2 separate regions of the Homo sapiens genome follow, and region 1 is linked to region 2. Evidence: fine-mapped expression QTL. A gene starts in region 2. The other region holds a variant in brackets. All regions are shown on one strand. Distances are between the middles of the regions. Region 1 overlaps ABAT (4-aminobutyrate aminotransferase). Region 2 holds the start of ABAT (4-aminobutyrate aminotransferase).

Region 1 (5,374 bases), 45 kb before region 2:
TGGCGTTATAAAACCGGTTCAGAAGCCTAAAAGGCTTGTTCAAGGTCTTAGAGCTCAAAAGCCAGAAATTTCTAGCGTTGGCTGCACCTGACGCTCGCTCACCAGAAGCTTACACTTGTGTCAAAGCCCCACCCAGACTAAGTAGGTCTGAGTCTCACAGGTGTGACCTGGGCACCGGGGGAAGCTCTGGAGGCTCGGAGGCTGAGAACTACTGTTAATTACCATAAAGAGTGGACGGTGGGCCCTGCATATGACCACAGGACTTCATGATCCTCAAATCCCTGGAACTGGAGGTCAAACATCCCATGGATACAGGGAGAAAAAAGCCTGTGGAGGCAGAGTGTGAGGTGCTGGATATGAAACTGCTTCTTCCCTGCATCTCCCCAATCTTGCATCCTTCAAAATGATCTTACCCCCAGACTAGACATCCCTGGCCTCTCACTGACCCGCCGTATAACCTCAGGCACATTAAGTAACGTCTCTGTGCCTCAGTTTCCTGATCTGTAAAATGGGAGTAATAGCAATTGGAACTATTTTGTGGGCTGGCAGAAGTCCTTACTGTTTCCCCAGCCCCAGAGCAGTGCCTGCCTGCAAACAATCATTGAATAAACAGTAAATGCTCAACAAGCAGCCTATGAAGATGGCGTCTGACTCACCTTTCTACTCCGCTGCTTCCCAGGTCCTGTGAACACGAACTCTTTGCATGCATCATCGGCTAGAAATGGACCCCCCAGATCTCTCTAGAAAAGACCCTGCCTCTCATTTTCCTATCAGCCGTTGGGACCAAGACAAAAGTGCTGGCAGACGCTGAGGACATTCCTTTCCCGTCTGCAGCCCCAGCTGCTGGCTTCTCTGCAGACTCAAAGGGACACAAAGACACACTCAGCCAAGTGCACTTCAGTTGTCAAGGCCAGGGGTTGCCATAGCAACCCATAAAGCCGGAGCCGTGGGCCTGTGCAGATGGGGTTAACAGGGCCCCATTCAGGGGCAGTGGCACAGGGACAGAGGCTTTATCTCACATCCACTTTTCTCCTCCGACTTCAGCTGCAACAGCCTCTTCTGACTTTCCCCTCCGCATGGGCCCCAGCCCTCTCTCCCTGCAGGCATGACTTCCTATCACCTGCCTCTTGGGCATCATAAAATTATCAGTGACTTGTATAGGGAGACAGAAATACTGTTCTTGGAAACAGGCAAATGTCCATTCCTAAGAAAGACTGAGAATGATGTGGGGAAAGTAACAAGAGCCAGAAATTGGGTCTAAAGTGTGGCTGGGCCATATATATTACCTAGGCAAGTTGCTGAACTCATCAGTGCCTTAGTTTCTGCATCTGTAAAATGGGAAGAATGAAATCTATTTGTGGGGTCAGGAGGCACTCAACTGGCTTAGGGTCAATTGAAGAAAGTACATAGGATGTGGAAGAGATGCCTGTTGCAGGCCATTTTCTGTTTCCAAAGAGCTCTTTAAAATTGTGCATTTTGGCTGGGCGCGATGGCTCACGCCTGTAATCCTAGCACTTTGGGAGGCCGAGGCAGGCAGATCACCTGAGGTCAAAAGTTCGAGACCAGCCTGGCTAAAATGGTGAAGTCCCAACTCTACAAAAAAATACAGAAATCAGCTGGGCGTGGTGGCAGGTGCCTGTAGTTCCAGCTACTTGGGAGGCTGAGGCAGGAGAATTGCTTAAACCTGAGAACCGAATGTTGCAGTGAGTAGAGGTCGTGCCACTGCTCTCCAACCTGGCGACAAGAGTGAAACTCCATCTCAAAAATAAGTAAACGAGTAAACAAAAATTGTGAACAACTTCTTTTTTTCCTTCTCCTTCTCCTCCTCCTCCTCCTTCTTTCTTCTTCTTTTTTTAGACAGGGAGAGACAAGGTCTCACTACGTTTCCCAGGCTGGACTTGAAGTTAGTAAAGGCACTTCTTCTATGGCCTGATGAGCTGCTAAAGACTATTGGCACATGCGGTGGTCCTGCTACCAGCCTCAACATCCAGATTTCATGAGAAAGAAGCTGATCTGCCTCATCCTCATGCTCCTGTCTCAGAGTCCTCTCTGCCCACCTCAATCAGGAATCCAGGGAGAACGAACACATCGTTGCTAGCAGGCAGGTAGTTACCCAGCCTGTGAAAAAACTGGAGAGAAAAATGAACAGACAGGGCTTCACATCCAAGCCTCCGAATGTGAGACACAGATAGCCTTTGTTCTGGAGGTAGGAAATAATATGGAAAGAAACATCTGCAAAAGGATAAGCTAGCTTTGGATTTCTGATCCTACAAGGGAGGAGGAGTGAAAGAATGGAATTGGCTTAGAAAGGATGCTTGGACCCATGCTGAAGTAGCTACCCGGGCCAACGCCACAGAAGGTCCGGCTTGTAAAATCTGTTTGTTCAGTTCAATAAATGCTTTCTGCACACCTGTGCCGAGCCCCAGAGATTCCTCAGTAAACAAGGACACGTCCTGCTGTGTTCTGTGGGATCTCGTGTTCCCGTGGGGAGGCCCAACAAGCAACAAACAAATCAGGTCGGTGTGATTGGAGGAAACGCACTTCCCGTTCAGAGAAAACAAACCACTTTCACGGACTCCAGAAACCGCTAAGTACGCAAAAATCACAGCGTATAACAAGTGAAACATTTATATTTCCTTCAAGGACCACACAGCTCCAGACTTGGAAACACTTTGTTGGTGGCTGGAGTCACGCTGTGTGCCTGGCAGCATTCCTACATGCACTTGCAAAGACCTTAACTTTTCTGTAATTCAAAGTATCTTTCATTTATGCCTGTGTGTGCAG[G/T]TATCTGCTCTGATTTTACGAATGAATGCCAATCGTGTCAAGGTTTCACATACACCGTCTTATCTACTCCTGGGAGGCAAATACTTCTATTCCTGTTGTTCTCTAAAACCCTGCCCCCTGACTGAGGCTGCCATTTAGGGGTCATCTTCCCAGAGGCAGGGGCTGGCTCAGGGGACCTCAGAGACCAGCTCTGGGAAGCATGTACCTGGAGGGTGCCCTCCATTTCCAGGGTCCAGAACGGTGTCTGGCTATTGTAGGTGCTCAAAAACACTTGTTGAATTCAATCATGGAGTTTCAGCCCTATACTCTGACAACTACAGGAACTGAACTGAAAAGCAACCTCTGAGTCCCATCCGTCAGATTAATGCAATGTTTCTCAAACTTTTTTTCATTGCCATTCCCCTAAAGATTCTTTATTAGCTACATACCCCATGAAATTTTAATTCCACAGATAAATTGTACATCTGCTTATGTATTGTATTTTATATCTGTACTTTATTCATAAAGAGTAAGATTTCTTTTCTTTCCCATAAATGTTCACTCTCTTGGGAATACTGATCCCACTAAGAATGCAGGGATTAAGCGCACACCTGCCATGTGCCAGTTGCTGGGTTGGACATTTGTTCTGCTTCATCTTATTCCATTCTTGCAACAGTATTACACAGTATGCATCATCAGCGCTATGAGACTGAGGATGAGACTGAGGTTCAGAGAGGGTTGTGGCTTATCCTGTGTCACACAGCTTGTCAACGGCAGAGCCAGTCTTCAAACTCGGGTCTGTGAGGCTTTAAAGCTAGTGCTGTTCTGTTTCCTTGCACAGAGAAATAACATGCCCAAGCTCACCTCATGGAGAAGAGGTGACCTGGGACCTGATGTGTAATCCCAGCATGTTGGGAGGCCAAGGTGAGAGGATCGCTTGAGCCCAGGAGATTGAGATCAGCCTGGGTGACAGAGCGAGACCCCATCTCTAAAAGAAAAAAAAAAAGAGGTGATTTGGGATTTTAATTTAATTCTTAAATTAGTCCTTCTGATTCCAACTTCAGTTTCTTTTTACCCAATACGTTGCCTCAAAAATATCTTTAGGCTACTTGACAAACTCACTGGGTATAAAAATCAGTGTCTTGGACTATCTTAAGAGAGAAAGGAACAGAAAAGAAGGAACAGAAAGAGGTGCCTGATGGATTGATTGGGAGACTCTGGTCTAAGCTACAGCACCAGGGCCAGTGTGTATTAATGTAACTTAGAAATCAATTCACTGCACTGTCACCTGCTGGTCTGGTTTGGTTTGGAGTCACAATGAAGGCACAGGTAGTATGCTCTAAGACAGTACTGCCCAAAAGAAATATAACACAAGCTTTCAATGCAAACCACATAGGTAATTTTACATTTTCTGGTAGCCATATGAAAAAAGCAAAAACAGCTGAAACCAATTTTTTTCATGTATCTTATTTAACCCATTGTATCTAAAATGTAATAATTTTGATACATAATCAATATAGTTATTATTATTACTTTTGAGATGGAGTTTTGCTCTTGTTGCCCAGGCTGAAGTGCAGTGGCACAATCTCGGCTCACTGCAACCTTCGCCTCCCAGGTTCAAGCGATTCTCCTGCCTCAGCCTCCCGAGTAGCTGGGATGACAGGTGTGTGCCATCACTCCTGGCTAATTTTTGTATTTTTAGTAGAGACAAAGTTTCACCATGTTGGTCAGGCTGGTCTCAAACTCCTGACCTCAAGTGATCCACCCGCCTTGGCCTCCCAAAGTGCTGGGATTACAGACGCGAGCTACCGTGCCCGGCCATCAATATAGTTATTAATAAGATATTTTGCATTTCTTTTTCGGATGTGTGCTAAGTCTTCAAAATCTGGTGTGAATTTCACACTCACAGCACATCACAGTTTAGAATAGCCACGTCTCAGATGCTCAATGACCAGATGTGATGAACGGCTACTGTACTGGCCTGTGCGGGCTGACGCATTGCATCAGAATTGGAGTGTGGTCACAGGAACATACAATCTGACCTGCTGAAATGCCACGGCCTGCCTGGGCCTGTCTGCTGCAATGACGTAGGCACAAGTAGTTTAGTCTAGGAGAGGCTCTCAACGGGATCCAATAAAAAGGGAGAGCAGACAGGGCTGGCTACATGATGTGTGGGACCCAGTGCATAAAATAAATATTCGAGGCCCCTTGTGAGAAAATGGTTACGAATTGCAAGTCAGTGACATGGGGGGATCTTCTGAACACGGGACCCTGTGTGACCATATAGATCACAAACCCATGAAGCACGCCCTGGGTACAGAAGAAAAAACACCCTTCAGGTTTCCCCATCACTGGCCAAGGTGAGGGTGCTGGGATCACGACTGCAGCAACAAATACAATTAGCAGCAGCAACAGCAGACACTTGCTCAGCGCTTACTTTAGGCCAAACCCTGTTCTAAGTTCTTTATATATCATAATACCCATCAGAACAACCTTCTGATATTATAATTATCCACTCGTAGCAAAAAAAAGAAAAAAGGAAACAGATCACAGAGAGGTTAAGTGATTTGCCCGACATCACACAGCCATGTAGTATCTTTAGTACTAAATT
Region 2 (5,374 bases):
GCAGTAGCCTCCACTCCAGCATCTCATTCTCATTAGCTGCAACTGATCTTATTAGCTATCCTGGGTCAGTTTGGATTTTGGCAAGCCTAGATTTGGCAATGGCCTCAACACAAAGATCGCACGGGGTAAGCAGGGATGCGCTGACACCCAGGAATGGATTCCACGAGGCAGCCTGCTGGGGGATGGCATTGAGTTCCAGCTCTGCCCCTTCCTGGCTTCATGACCTTTGCAGAGCCTTGGCGCTTCCTCTGACAAGTGGGGACTTGGGACCCAGCAGTCCCCAAGTCCCCATTGTAAATGTGAGGACTGGGGCTTGTGTCAGGGATCCTAGCACCTTAAGGGTCCTGGAGGGGTTGGGGCCAGCTGTCTCCCACAGGCTGGGTGACCTTGAGCAAGTCTCTTCCCCTTTTGTGCCTCTGTGTGTTTAACTGTCAAATGAAGGGGCCACGTCTTTAATGCAGAAGCCCTTTTAGGTCTTAGGACTCCAGACTGGACCATTTACCTCTCCCCGTGGCTAACCTCTTTGGGCCTCGAGAAAACACATTTCTCTATGACTCCACGCCGCAACACAGGCTCCAAAGAGCAAGACACAACTCACTGCCTCCCTCTCTCCTGCCTCCCAACCTGACCCACCAGAGAAGAGCTCTTCCCACCCCCTCCCCACCCCCAGGTCACCAACATCCTGTCCCTTAGTCTAGCTTCATCAAAGCAGCAAAGCCAACACTGTCTCCTCCCCAGTGGATGGGCCCAGCAGCACCCATTTCTCTTGGCTGAGTGCCCAGGGAATTCCACCAGGCAATGTCCACAGGCGCTTGCGGGGGTGCACACTTTAGGGGGGAAATGCGGGCCCTCTTGGAAGAGGGCCAGCTGTCCTCCCAGACTGCAAGAGAGAATGCATTGAACACAGCCTTTGTGCGTGTGTTGGGGCAGGGAGCGGGGGAGAGGTGGCGGGTGGTCTCTGCTGGTCCTGCTGCCTCAGAGGCCATCTCTGTTGTCAGAGTTTGAAGACTCCTGGAAGGGCCTCTAGGCCCCAGATCCCAGTTTTAAGAGCTCCAGTCTTACTAAATCTCGCTGAACCCCCTCTAGTCTTACCTTGGCCAGGGTGGGTGAGGAAAGGTGAGAGGATGTGAAATAGGTGGGGCAGCCAGGTGTGGGAGTGGAGTTGGGGTGAGGTGGAGAAGGATGGGATTGGGAGCGGTGGGAGGATGGTGCAGGGGGTTACTAGGATGGGGTTTGTGTGAAAGGGCTTGGGTGGAGTGGAGGGAGGTGGATGACTTGGAGGGGTGGCCAGACCTTTGCCCTGCTCCTGAGTATGAAGGTCCCTCATTTTACATCTTTACTGGGGAGGAGAGGGGAAATCCCCAAAAGCCTTTAATGTGGTGGTGTCAGAGGCCACCCTGCCTCTCTGACGGGTAGGGAGGGGTCTCCGGCAGGGCTAAGGGTGAATCATCTATCTCTCCAGAGCCCAGTATCTGGGGTGGGAGGGTGACTTGCAGAGTCTCTGCTCCGGGATTTCCTTGTCTTATGATGGGGGGAGAGCTTCCATTTGTCATGGAGGGGGAGGTCACTGTAATTTATAAGCTGAGAAGACCCCCATTATTCCGAAAGAGAGGGGAGAAGGAAGACACCCAAACTTAGTTTTCTAAGGATGGGGAAGGGGCATCAGTCTCCCAAGAGGTGAGGGGGCTCTAGAGACCTGGAGACCACTTTTTGGGGCCGCATTCTATTTCAAGCGGTAAAAGGGAGAGGACTTCTGTCTAGAGCTGGAGCCAGGAGGAAGGGCCCATTTCTGAAGGAGAAAGGAAGGTATTTTGCTCTCTGGGGGGTGGGAGCCCCTGTCTTTTCGGGGGAGGGCCCCGCGTCTTGGGAAGATGAGGGCTCCGTTTCCAGGAGAAGATGCCCAGGTTTTGCTCCTGGGGGCAGGGCAGAAGGACCTCCTCTCGGCTCCCCTCGGAAGGGCCCGTCCCAAGCCACCCGGCGCCTCGCGCTCACCTCCAGGCCCCGTCTCCGATCTGCGGGATCCGATCCGCCGGGTTCCGACTTGCGGGATGCGCGCCCCGAGTTCCGGCAGCGCTGGGTGTCTGCTCGACTTCCCCCAGCGACTCGCCGGACTCCCTGGCTCCGCCGAGCGTCCCGGCCAATCAGCGCCGCCAGCCCCGGCCCTCGCTTTCGCCACAGCCAATGGGTGCGCCCGCCACGGGCCACCGCCCCCAGGAGGGAGGTGGCAGGCGGGGCGGGGGCAGAGTCCAGCCTCCGGGGGCGGGGGAGACGGGGGCTGGGGCGGGACCCACCAGAGGGACCGCGAGGGCTGGGAGGGAGTCCTGGGACTGGGGAGGAGACGGCTGAGGACCCCCGTCAAGTTGTGGGGACCCTGACCCTCTGGGGGGCAGCTCCATAGGTTGATTTAACCTGGATCTTAATGGGCCATTTACACCCTCAGGGCTGCAGGCGAGTGTAACTCCACCTCCACCCGCGTCTCGGATCCGGTCTCTGGAGCTCCAGAGTCGGAATCAGAAGGGGTTCCTTTGCGGAGAAGGGAAGGAGCATCCCGCCCTCCCCACCTCACTCCCCATCTCGGCGCTCAGGGCCCTGCCAGCCCTTCTTGCTCCCAGCTACTTTCCTCCGCCTGGCCCCAGCGCTCCGGAAGACAAACAGGGCGCTGGGAGTCAGAGGTGGTTCCTTCTGCATGACCTGGAGCAGGTCACTGCGCCTCCTGATCCTCAATTTCCTGAAATTGGGACAACAGAGATTGTACCTCCTTCGTGGGTATAAACGAGACCCTAGATATGATGAAGGTGCCTTTCTACCGTTGTATAAAATGCTGTGTGGAAGATAATTAATACTCAGGTGTGACGGATGGATAGCCCCCCCACAGCTTTCTAGAGGTATTTGGAAAGAGGATGCAATCTTTCAGTGACAAAATCAAAGACACAAAGAACTGCTCATCAAGACAACAGGCGATCACCAAGTCCTCATAATGAATGAATGGATGGATGGAGAGTACAGACCTTAAAGGCAGAGAAAGAGTTCAGCTTGGTTCTCCCCACTCACCCTGATCACTGATAACTTGGTCTGTGGAGTCTTGTAGAACCCTGAGGTCTCTCCTCCTGCTGTCCAGGAATCCAGGCTGCCCTATCTCTGATTACACAAGCGCTATAGTCCTTGCAATTAAAGAATTAAGATAAAGTAAACACATAGATAAATAGAAAGCTGCCAAACAAATCATTCACCTCCTAGTGTCACCTCTGGGGACCCTCCCCCCCAACACACACACACACACACACACACACACACACACACACACACAGAGCAGTAAATAAGAATAATTGAGGCCTGGCACAGTGGCTTACGCCTGTAATTCCAGCACTTTGGGAGGCCGAGGCAGGCAGATCACTTGATGCCCAGAGCTCGAGACCAGCCTGGCCATCATGGGGAAACCCCCTTTCTATTAAAAATACAAAAATTAGCCTGGCATGGTGGCACCTGCCTGTAATCCCAGCTACCTGGGAGGCTGAGACATGAGAATCGCTTGAATGGAGAGGCAGTGGTTGCACTGAGGTGAGATGGCACCACTGCACTCTAGCCTGGGTGATTGTCACCTTGCTTGAGGAACTTGATGAGGCCTGTGCTGAAAATCTAGCAATTTTTTCTTAAAACCAAAGCCATGAACATAATCCCCTTTACTACCCTTGACCTGCCCAAAGAAATACAACGGCCAATAAACATGGGAGATGACACTTTGAAAAGGAAAGGCAAGTTAAAACCAAAAGAGGGAAAGAGTTTACCTACCAAAATGACCTTGTTTTTATTATTATAATTACTATTCTTTGCAAAGACTTCAAGGAGTTTCATGTATTGATGATGGCAGTAGAAAGATCACAGCCTTTCTGGAGGGAAATTGGGTATTTCTATTTTAAAAATCTTAAAAGTAAGTTGACCCTTTGATCTAGCAATCCAATCCCTATGAACTTATCTGAAAACATTTAAAGGTACAAAGATTTAATGATAAAGTAGCTTACTACCATTTTGTTTATCACAGGGAAAAACTGGGAACAACTTGAATGCACAACAGCAGGGACTCAGAGGGAAATTGTTGCATGAAATTGAACAATAAACATAGGTATGAAATATTGAATGGGGCTGGGTGTGGTGACACGCCTGTAATTCCAGCACTTTGGGAAGCCAAGGCAAGAGGATCGCTTGAGCCAAGGAGTTCAAGACCAGCCTGGGTAACATAGTGAAACCCTGTCTCTACAAAAAATACAAAAATTATCCGGGCGATGTGGCGCATGCATGTAGTCCCAGCTACTCAGGAGACTGAGGCAGCCTTGAGCCTGGGAGGTTGAGGCTGCTGTGGGCCAAGATTACACCACTGTACTCCAGCTGGGTGACAGAGTGAGACCCTGTCTCAAAAACAAAACAAAACAAATCTCAAAATGTTAAGTTATTTGCAAAAACAGTATATTTGGTACTGTCTTACTTTTTGTTAAACATCTTACTTTTTGTTAAATCTACCAGGTAGAGCTAGATCAATGCTGTGTAATATAACTTTCTATGATGCTCTATATCTGTGCCGTCCCGTGTGGTAGCCACTAGCCACATGGAGGTATTGAACACCTGAAATGACTAATTTTGGTATCCAAGATGTTTAAAAAAAAAAAAGAAAGAAAGAAATAATAAAAAAAGGAAAAGGGAAAAATAAATTTAAAATTTTGGAAAAAGCAATGACTAGTTAACCGAATAACTGTATTTTAATTGTATCTATTTATTTATTTTTTTAGAGACGGAGTCTCGCTCTGTCACCCAGGCTGGAGTGCAGTGGTGTGATCTCAGCTCGCTGCAACCTCTGCCTCCCAGGTTCAAGCGGTTCTCCTGCCTAAGCCTCCTGAGTAGTTGGGATTACAAGCGTGCTCCACCACGCCTGGCTCGTTGTTTAATTTTTTAATTTTTAGTAGAGACAGGGTTTCGTCATGTTGGCCAGGCTGGTCTCAAACTCCTGGCCTCCAGTGATCTGCCTGCCTCAGCCTCCCAAAGTGCTGGGATTACAGGTGTGAACCACCACGCCCAGCCTGTATCTAATTTTAATTTAAGGTGTAACAGTAACAGGTAGCTAGTGGCTATCATATTAAAAGGCACCGATATAGCTAGCTAGCAATGCTGAGTGAAAAACTGTGTTCAGTAGGAGAATGGTTATTTTTGTGTATTGAAATTATAGATTATTCTAATATTACTTTATTTGCATGTCCATGTCAGTAATTTCTTTTTATCCCCTTGGGTTTATTTTTAATAGAGGATAAACTTTACAATGTCACTAATTTCTAATTATTCTGTAATGAATATATATTACTCTGGTACTAAGAAGAAAATATTTAAA

What was found.
Region 1: its variant is fine-mapped to the expression of ABAT in testis (GTEx, PIP above 0.99).

Annotation. Positions count from the first base shown.
Region 1 is chr16:8,716,217-8,721,590 of GRCh38, reverse strand. The region is part of intron 1 of ABAT (4-aminobutyrate aminotransferase); the gene reads right to left. Among named protein-coding and RNA genes, the nearest start is that of ABAT, 44 kb to the right of the region's middle. RefSeq lists an enhancer at 988-1,488. The variant G/T (reference allele first, on the strand shown) is at 2,785.
Region 2 is chr16:8,671,330-8,676,703 of GRCh38, reverse strand. It overlaps ABAT (4-aminobutyrate aminotransferase), which reads right to left and starts at 2,087. Exons shown (of 16, transcript NM_020686.6): 1 at 1,993-2,087. RefSeq lists a silencer at 2,035-2,494 and enhancers at 2,089-2,588, 2,589-3,090.